Regions from separate parts of the Homo sapiens genome. Here region 2 is linked to region 1. The links come from fine-mapping of genetic effects on gene expression. A gene starts in region 1. The other region holds a variant in brackets. All regions are shown on one strand. Distances are between the middles of the regions. Region 1 holds the start of DNAJC12 (DnaJ heat shock protein family (Hsp40) member C12). Region 2 overlaps DNAJC12 (DnaJ heat shock protein family (Hsp40) member C12).

Evidence for each region.
Region 2: its variant is fine-mapped to the expression of DNAJC12 in adrenal gland (GTEx, PIP 0.96).

Annotation. Positions count from the first base shown.
Region 1 is chr10:67,835,576-67,841,108 of GRCh38, reverse strand. DNAJC12 (DnaJ heat shock protein family (Hsp40) member C12) reads left to right here and starts at 2,921. Exons shown (of 5, transcript NM_021800.3): 1 at 2,921-3,175. The coding sequence starts at 3,098.
Region 2 is chr10:67,809,913-67,814,912 of GRCh38, reverse strand. DNAJC12 (DnaJ heat shock protein family (Hsp40) member C12) reads left to right here. Exons shown (of 5, transcript NM_021800.3): 3 at 3,250-3,389. Among named protein-coding and RNA genes, the nearest start is that of DNAJC12, 26 kb to the left of the region's middle. The variant C/T (reference allele first, on the strand shown) is at 2,074.

The sequences.
Region 1 (5,533 bases):
ATGGAGCCAGCATCCGTTCAGCTTCTGGGTAGGCTTCAGGGAGCTTTTACTTATGGCAGAAGGTGAAGTGGGAGTAGACATGTTACATGGTGAGAACAGGAGTAAGAGAGCCAGGGGGAAGATACCACACACTTTAAAAACTTTTAAGCCGGGTACAGTGGCTCACCCCTCTAATCCCAGCACTTTGGGAGGCCACGGCGGGTGGATCACCTGAAGTCTGGAATTTGAAACCAGCCTGACCAACATGGAGAAACCCCATCTCTACTAAAAATTCAAAATTAGTCGGGCATGGTGGCACATGCCTGTAATCCCAGCTACTCAGGAGGCTGAGGCAGGAGAATCACTTGAACCCAGGTGGAGGTTGCGGTGAGCCAAGATCACACCATTGCACTCCAGCCTGGGCAACAAGAGTGAAACTCTGTCTCAAAAAAAAAATTATATTATTAATATAAAAATAAGGACAGAGTCTCACTATGTTGCGCAGGCTGGTTTTGAACTCCTGGGCTCAAACAATCCTCCTGCCTTGGTCTCTCAAAGTGCTGGGATTACAGGCATAAGCCACTGCAACTGGCCAATACCACACTTTTTTGTTTGTTTGTGTTAGACAAGGTCGTGCTCTGTCACCCAGGCTGGAGTGCAGTGGTGTGATCTCAGCTCATTGCAGCCTCCACCTCCTGGGTTCAAGCAATTCTCGTGCCTCAGCCTCCCAAGTAGCTGAAATTACAGGCATGTGCCACCACACCCAGCTAACTTTTTTGTATTTTCAGTAGAGATGAAGTTTTGCCATGTTGGCCAGGCTGGTTTCGAACTCCTGGCCTCAAGTGATCTGCCTGCCTCGGCCTCCCAAAGTTCTGGGATTACAGGTGTGAGCCACCATGCCCAGCCCTAACATTCCATTTGTTTAGTCATCCGTTGATGGACACTTGCATTGCCTCCACTTTTTGGCTATTATGACTAATGCCTTGATGAACATGAGTATATAAATATCTTTTCAAGTTCCTGCTTTCAATTCTTTTGTGTATTTACCCAGAAGTGGAATTGTGGGGTCACATGGTAGTTCTATGTTTAATTTTTTGAGGAACCACCATACTGCTTTCCACCATGGCAACTTCACATCATTAAAAGGCCATTTATCAGTGATTTAGATCAAGATATTGTGATCTAATTTTTTTTTTTTTTTTTGAGATGGACCCTGGCTCTGTCACCCAGGCTGGAGTCCAGTGGCACGATCTCGGCTCGCTGCAACCTCCGCCTCCCAGATTCAAGCAATTCTCCTGCCTCAGCATCCTGAGTAGCTGGGACTACAGGTGCGTGCCACCATGCTTGGCTAATTTTTGTATTTTTAGTAGAGACAGGATTTCATCACATTGGTCAGGCTGGTCTCGAACCCCCGACCTCGTGATCCGCCCGCCTCGGTCTCCCAGTGCTGGGATTATGGCATGAGCCACCGTGCCTGGCCTTAAAATTCTATATAGAACTTTTAGCAAGACAGCATGTACAATGAAGGATTAGTAAAAAATGGTGTTTCAGTGCTTTTTCTTGCTTCTCTTCAGAAATAAACCTTTAAAAAGATGTATATAGGTGGGCTAAAAGAAAAACTATTTTTTCCCCTCAGGTGGGGGAATTTAAAGTGTTAAGGGCCAGGCATGTTGGCTCACATCTGTAATCGCAGCACTTTGGGAGGCCAAAGTGGGAGGATCACTTGAGTCCAGGGGTTTAAGACCAATCTGGGCAATATGGCGAGACCCTGTCTCTCTGAAAAATGAAACAAAAAAAGTGTTAAGGCAGTCAAAGTGTTGTGTCCCTGACCACTCACCTTGTTCTCTAAATCCCAGACCTGAACTGTGTTTCTTAGGGCCAAAATGAACTGAAACATAAATTGCCTGGACCTACCTCAGACTAGAGACACTCCTGAGTCTGGAGAACCAACCCAGGAGAAATAGCACAGCCATCTGACCCGAGTTATCATACAGTTCTTCTCATTGTCCTATTTTATTTTCTCTAAAGCACAAATCACTATTTTATTTTTTTATTTTTTGAGATGGAGTCTTGCTCTGTAGCGCAGTCTGGAGTGCAGTGGCACCATCTCGGCTCACTACAGCCTCTGCCTCCTGGGTCCAAGTGATTCTTCTGCCTCAGCCTCCCAAGTAGCTGGACTACAGGTGTGGGCCACCATGCCTGGCTTACAAATCACTATTTTAAATGATCGTGTTTTTTTTTTTTTTTTTTTTTTTTGCATGTTTTTCAGCTGTCTTCCTCCATCAGAGCGTAAGCTCCATAAAAATCAAGACTGTGTTATTGGCTGGGCGCTGTGGATCATGCCTGTAATCCCAGCACGTTGGGAGGCCGAAGCAGGCAGATCGCTTTGAGCTCACGAGTTCGAGACCAGGCTGGGCAACATGGCAAAACCCCCTCCTCTTAAAACATAACAAAACAAAAACCAAAAATTAGCTGGACATGGTGCTATGTGCCTGTGGTCCCAGCTACTAGGGAGGCTGAGGTGGGAGGATCGCTTGAGCTGGGGAGACAGAGGTTGCAGTGAGCTGAGACTGCACCACTGCACTCCAGCCTGGGCAACAGAGTGAGACCTTGTCTGAAAATAAACAAATAAAAAATAAAATTAAGTATTTTAAACACTAAGAAAAGCTCCCATTATCCTTATTAACACATCCTAAGATTTTACCACATTGCTTCACATTTTTTTTCTTTTTTTTTTTTAAAGGATAGAGACAAAAATATATAGGAGATGGAGAAGTGGCTAATGTGGCAAGTTTCTGAAAATAGACAGTCTTTATTAACTCATAAGACAAATGGTTCACATGCATCTCTTATATAAACTCAAACTACAGATCCCAGGCAGCACTGCAATAATAGACACGTGGACTGTTCTTTTCTTCTCTGTAAACAGCCAATGAGAGGCAGAGTTTACAAAGGTCTAGGATGACATCTGGTGTATTGACTGTGGCCAGTCTTAAAGCTAGTTTTTGCTATGTGGAACATGCTGCTCTAATTCAGATTTAAAGAGTTTCTTCCTGTTAATTCGAAGCTCACTGTGCCTCTTGTTTCCGAGGGAAGAAGGACTGATTAAGTCATCTAAATGGATGCAATACTGAATTACAGGTCAGAAGATACTGAAGATTACTACACATTACTGGGATGTGATGAACTATCTTCGGTAAGACAGTGGATAATATTTTTATCACAACAGTATTCTTTTTCACAATAGTATTTCAAGTTTTTATTTAAGGTTTTAACTTTGAATTTTTAGTCACATTGCCTACAAACCTAACCTTGTGTTGTTTTAAAGCACTTTTGGCTCAGAGAAAGTTAAGAATTTAAATGTATGTTGGGATTTTACTTGAATAGTGTCCTATGGGAATTTTACGGAAGCTTCTGATTAAATATGTGTATTCTGGCACATGGCCATATGCTGTTTCACAATATAGTATATTAAAAATAAATATTTGAAATTTTATTGTAATTTCTGATGGCAGTGTTTCACAGTATATATAAGCTATACCTTTATTATGGTGACTCATAATTGAGGTGAAATGAAATTTCTTATAAAATTAGGGATTTTAATATATTTTATTAAAATGTGTACTCCTATGTGAGCAGTCAAAATAGAAACAAAGAAGCATCCCTTTATGTTAATATTTCAAATTGTGTGACAGAAATTACTTCTTGAAAGGGTGGCTTCTGAAACAAAACATGTGAAAACTCTGTAGCTGTTCACTGGATCTGTAAGAAAACAAAATTTTTAAAGTTCTCAATAAACAATTATAAAGGTTGTAGAGGTTTTTTAAATTATGGAAAAATCATTTATAATTCTCTCTCCCAAGGATAACAGTATTAATATTTTGGCATATTAATCTCCACTATTCTTTCTATGTATATTCTTTAAAGACCTGTTTGGGAGGATATTATATGTACTTGTTGATTCCTGCTTTTTACCCATTCGTATTATAACAAGGAATTTTCCATGCTATTAAACTTTCCTTGTACACTTTTTAGTGGTTGCAAAATATTTTATTTTGCTGTGTTACCACAGTTGAATTATTCTCTTATTGTTAAATATTTTATTTCCAATTTTTCAATATTTCAAATAATGTTGAGATTAATATAAAATATATTCATTATTAAATTATATATTATTAAATCATGTTATTAGGATATATTTATGTTTTATAATTAATGTATTTTATTTTATTTATTTTTATTAAAATCTAAGTAGTAAAATTAACATTGTAAAGCAAAATGTTTTTATATTTATTGTTGTTTCATAAAGGCAGTAGTTCATTAATAAAATGTGCTTAGTTTTGTTTTAAGAATAGAATGCATTACTGGACACAAAGGATTAAAATCTCTATTTTTGCCATGCTGAGGAAGTTATCTTAGACACGTTGAAATTAAAAAAACTGCCCCGCCCCCAGAATAGCTTATAATGGTCTTTTAGTTGCATATTTCTTCTCAAGAATGTGTTATTCTTGTTTATGTTGGTGGTGATTTGCTTATAGCAATTGAGAAAGCTTATTACCATTTTTACCATGTGTTATTCACAGTTGAAATTATACTATTATCAAACAATTTTTGAAGGAATAATTTAAAATCAAAGGAATATAATTTAACTTGATAAGGCTGACAATTTGGATTTAAAAAAATACATGCTAGCTTATACAGTAAGGGTCATTATATCTCCATAATCTTGTGACCTATTTAGTCAGTCCTTTTTTTTTTTTTTCAATTTTACTTTAAGTTCTGGGATCCCTGTGCAGAATGTGCAGGTTTGTTACATAGATACACATGTGCCAGGGTGGTTTGCTGCACCTATCAACCCATCATCTAGGTTTTAAGCCCCGCATACATTAGGTATTTGTCCTAATGCTGTCCCTCCCCTTCTCCCCCACCCCCCGACAGGCCCCGGTGTGTGATGTTCCCCTGCCTGTGTCCATGTGCTCTCATTGTTCATCTCCCACTTATGAGTGAGAACATGTGGTGTTTGGTTTTCTGTTCCTGTGTTAGTTTGCTGAGAATGATGGTTTCCAGCTTCATCCATGTCCCTGCAAAGGACATGAACTCATTCTTTTTTATGGCTGCATAGTCAGTCTTTTGAAGTTATGCTGTTGTCTTTTCAATCTACATAGAAGGAGGATTCATTTTGGACAGCCTTACAGAAAATAATCTCGTTGTTAATGTGTAATATTCAAAATATGGTTACCAGGTGGAGTCATACTTCCTTGTCTCAACATTCCTTTTACTGGATGTATTTTACTGGTCTGTCAATGGCATATCATATCTAGATAACAATTATTTATTTTTAATGAAATGTTTGTCATAATATTGTCACTTCTTTATATATATGTGTGTGTGTGTGTGTGTGTGTGTGTGTGTCATTTTTTCTCTCTTTTTTTTGTTTTTTTGAGATGGAGTCTCACTCTGTTGCCGGGCTGGAGTGCAGTGGTGCAATCTCAGGTCACTGCAACCTCCGCCTCCCAGGTTCAAGTGATTCTCCTTCCTCAGCTTCCTGAGTAGC
Region 2 (5,000 bases), 26 kb after region 1:
ACTTTACATTCCCACCTGTCATGTGTGACAGTTCCAATTTTTTCACATTCTAGACAATTATTATCCTTTAATTTTAGCCATCCTAGTAGGTATAAAGTGGTATCTCACTATGGTTTTGATTTGTATTTCCTGAAGGACTAATACTGTTCAGGATATTTTCAGGTGCTTGTTGGCTATTTGTATATCTTCTTTGGAGAAATGTTCATTCAAGCCCTTTGTCCATTTTGCATTTGGGTTATTTGTCTTATTATTGAGTTGTAAATGTTCTCTATAAATTCTAGATATAAGTACCTTATCAGATATATTATTTGCAGATATTTTTTCCCATTCCATGGTTTGTCATTTCACTTTCTTCATGGTATTCTTTGAGGCACAAAAGTTTTAATTTTGATGTAGTCCAATTTATCTATTTCTTCTTTTGTTGCTTGTGCTTTTGGTGTCATATCTAAGGAGCTCTTGCCTAAGCTGAGGTCACAAAGATTTATTCCTATGTTTTTTTTTTCCCAGTTTTTTATGGTTTTAACCCTTACATTTGGATCTGTGATCCATTTGAGTCAATATTTGTTTATAGCTTAAGGTAGAAATCTAAATTCATGCTTTTTATATATTGATATTTAGTTATCCTAGCACCATTTGTTGAAAAGACTATTTTTTTTCTTCATTAAATTGTCTTGGCACTCTTGTTGAAATCAATTGACTGTAAATGTAAGGGTTTGTTTCTGGATTCTCAATTCTATTCCATTTATAAGTATGTCTATCCTTATGTTAGTACCACACTGTTTTCACTACTGTAGCTTTGTAGTATAAGTTTTGAAATTCAGAAGTGTGAATTCTCCAACTTTGCTCTTATTTTTTTCAAGAGTTTTTTTTTTTTTTGGCAATTCTGGGTCCCTTGTATTTGCAAACAGATTTTAGGACTAGATTGTCAATTTCTGCAAAAAAGGCAACTGGGATTTTGATAGAGATTATGTTGAATCTGCAGATCAGTTTGGGGGGTATTATCATTTTAGCAATAGTAAATCTTTATGAACGTGGGATGTCTTTTCATTTATTTAGATCTTCTTTAGCTTCTTTTGACAATATTGTGTAGTTCCTTCTTTTGTTCAATTTTTTAAAAATATTATATTCTTCTTGAAGCTTTTTTTTTTTTCTTTTGAGACAGAGTCTTGCTCTGTCACCCAGGCAGGAGTGTAATGACATGGTCTCAGCTCACTGCAACCTCCGCCTCCCAGGTTCAAGTGATTCTCCTGCCTCAGCCTACTGAGTAGCTGGGATTACAGGCGCCTGCCACCACACCCAACTAATTTTTTTTTTTTTTTGTATTTTTAGTAGAGACGGGGTTTCACCATGTTGGCCAGACTGGTCTCGAACTCCTGACCTCGTGATCCGCCCACTTCGGACTCCCAAAGTGCTGGGATTACAGGCATGAGCCACTGGGTCCGGCTCTTGATGCTCTTATAAATGGAATTTTCTTAATTTCATTTTCAGATTGTTCATTGCTACTGTGTAGAGACACCACTGATATTTGTATATTGATTTTTTATTTTTTGGAGACGGAGTCTCGCTCTGTCATCTAGGCTGGAGTGCAGTGGTGTGATCTTGGCTCACTGCAACCTCTACCTCCCAGATTCATGAGATTCTTCTGCCTCAGCCTCCCAAATAGCTGGGATTACAGGCGCCCACCGCCATGCCTAGCTAATTGTCTTCTTGCTGTGTTTTCACATGGGGGAAACAGAGTGAGCGAGTTGTCTGGGTTTCTTTTATTAGGGCACTGATTCCATTCGTGAGGGTTCCACCCTCATGATCTAATCATATCTCAAAAGCCCCATCTCCTAATACTATCATTTTGGGAGTTAAGAATTCAACATATGAATTTTTGTTTGTTTGTTTTGAGATGGAGTCTTGCTCTGTCGGACAGGCTGGAGTGCAGTGGTGCAAACTCGGCTCACTGTAAGCTCTGCCTCACGGGTTCCAACGATTCTCCTGCCTCAGGCTCCTGAGTAGCTGGGATTACAGGCCTGGGCCACCGTGCCTGGCTACTTTTTTTTGTTTTTTTTTTTTGAGATGGAGTCT[C/T]GCTCTGTCGCCCAGGCTGGAGTCCAGTGGCACAATCTCGGCTCACTGCAACCTCTGCCTCCCAGGTTCAAGCAATTCTCTGCCTCAGCCCCCGAGTAGCTGGGAATACAGGCGCCTGCCACCACCCCCAGCTATTTTTTTTTTTTTTTTTGTATTTTTAGCAGAGATGGGGTTTCACCATCTTGGCCAGGCTGGGTCTTGAATTCCTGACCTCGTGATCCACCCACCTTGTCCTCCCGAAGTGCCGGGATTACAGGCCTGAGCCACTGCACCCGGCCTGTATATAAATCTTGTATTCTGCTCTGCAGAAAGTTTTTACTTCACTGAGGAGCAGAAGAGACTTTGGAGGTGTTTCTAACAGAGCCATAAAAGGTTTCTATTATATACCATCTGGTCAAGTAGATTAGTGACAAGCTACCATTTGTCCCAGCATCTACCATGTTATTTATTATACTTAAAGCCTCCCGTTTCTCTTACGACAAAAAGCAGGCCAGCATCCTTAACATGACATCTCAGGCCCTGGTTGATTGAGCTATTGTCTGTCTACTCTACAGCCCCATCCCTCATCGTTCTTTCCCTAGCCTTGTGTCCTCCAGCCACACTGGCAATTACTACTTCCTCTAAGTCACCGTGCTCCTTCCTGCTTTATAAGGACAAACAAGATCATGGATGTAAAGTGCTTGGGACAGTTTATCCACTCCCTGTATTGTGCCTCAGTCATGTCTTTATAGTCTTTATAGTCTTCAGTTTTATAGTCTTTATAGTCTTCAGTTTTACTGTCCCTCTTGCCTAATTACTGCCCTGTTTCACACCCAGCACTAAAAAAGGTAGTTTTCTTCCTATAAGGTGGAATAGTATTTTTTCAATGTTTACAAATGTTTCTTTCCCCTGCTAATAATGTCTATTATTCACATCTGTGTCATCAGCACCGGGAGTAGCCTCTGGCACATGACTGAGGCACAATACAGGGAGTGGATAAACTGTGCCGAGCACTTTACATCCATGATCTTGCTTGTCCTTATGATACCCTTTACAAAAGCTTAATGAGGTAAATTGGCCCAAGGTCACATAGCTATTAAGTGGCAGTCATGGTTTTAGTAAGAGCAGTTGGATAGTTTTGGAGTTTAAAATATCCTCTCCGAGAGAGAAGTGCTCATTTCTTGATTTGTTTTCCAGTGGAGACTTTTCAGAAACTGCAGAAGGCAAAGGAGATTCTGACCAATGAAGAGAGTCGAGCCCGCTATGACCACTGGCGAAGGAGCCAGATGTCGATGCCATTCCAGCAGTGGGAAGCTTTGAATGACTCAGTGAAGACGGTGGGTTTCTCGCTGGGTGCGACGTGAATTTGTGAAGCTCAGGATGCCCATGGATTAGACTCATGTAGTAGCTTAAAGAGTCATTAGGCGATAGGAGGGAGAAAACCAAGAAGTTAGCAGAGTCTGGATATAATTCAGTGTCCGTAAATCCCATGAAGAGAAGCTCATCAGAATAAAGGCAATGAATTTGTGCCAGAAGAGCCTGTGACTACATTTCTTTCAATCTCTTTGGCTGTTTGTTTCAGTATACACACTCCCTGTTATTGCTTACTATTTTATGAGCTCTAATAAATGTACTTCTCAAGTTGCTCATGAATTGCTGAGTTTTAACCATTGTAAATTCACATTCTCCATCTTTTTAGTTTATGTCAGCTTGCTCTCTTTTCAAGGCTTAGAATTTTCATTAAAAAGGCAGGATCTGATTAGTCAGAGAAAGCCATGAATTATTCCTATTAAACATTCTGGTGAAAGAATTGTTAGACTTTAAAAACATTGTGTTATCTTTCTTCATGTCATTAAAAGGCATAAATATCAAAATATTCACTATAATTACTGTCATATATTTATTTTGTTCAACATTGACCTTTATATATTATAGACAAAATGTAATTTTAAAGATTTAGGCATGATTTATTACCTAGATTCTCTCCATTGGAACACTTTTCTATGACATGGGACTTATAATACAGAAATTACCTCATAGGTAAGTTTTCAGGGACAGTTGTTAGAATTAGTGTATAAAATGATTCACATCTCTTAAATTATAGCCCTTCAGGGTTACATTTAGATTTCCTTCTTCATAGTTTTTATTTTAGAAGACTTGAGCAAATTGTTGATAAAAGACCTCGGCCTCCCAAAGTGCTGGGATTGCAGGCATGAGCCATCGCACCTGGCTAGATTGTTAAATCTCATAAATTCCCTTTCCTTCACACCATCAACCCTGTGTTTCTGCTTTTTGTTTAAATAGTATAATCCCTCTGGAACGGAAAAGCATTGTTTGGGAACATTATTAGTCCCTATACCCACAAGGCAGGACAAATCACGGTGTACTTTTGTAGCATCACACACAGGATCATATCTTGGGAATTTCCTTTGGGAGAATTCCTCAAACGAGCCACAGCCTCAGGGGTGCCACATTTTTTTAAATTAAAAACTTCAAAAAATTTTCAATAGCTTTTGGGGTACAAGTGTTGATATGGTTTGGATTTGTGTCCTGCCCAAATCTCATGTTGAATTGGATGAGGGTCCTGATGGGAGGTGATTGGATCATGGGGGCAGATTTCCCCCTTGCTTTTCTCATGATAGTGAGTTCTCATGAGATCTGATGGTTTAAAAGTATGTGGCAGTTCTACCTTCTCTCTCTTTCCTGCCACCATGAGAAGAAGGCCCTTTCTTCCCCTTCACCTTCCGCCATGATTGTAAGTTTCCTGAGGCCTCCCAGTCATGCTTTCTGTTAAGCCTGAGGAACTGTGAGTCAATTAAACCTCTTTTCGTCATAAATTACTGAGTCTCAGGTAGTTCTTTACAGCAGTGTGAAATGGACTAATACAAGTGGTTTTTAGACACATGGATGAATTGTATGGTGGTGAAGTCTGAAATTTTAGCGCACCC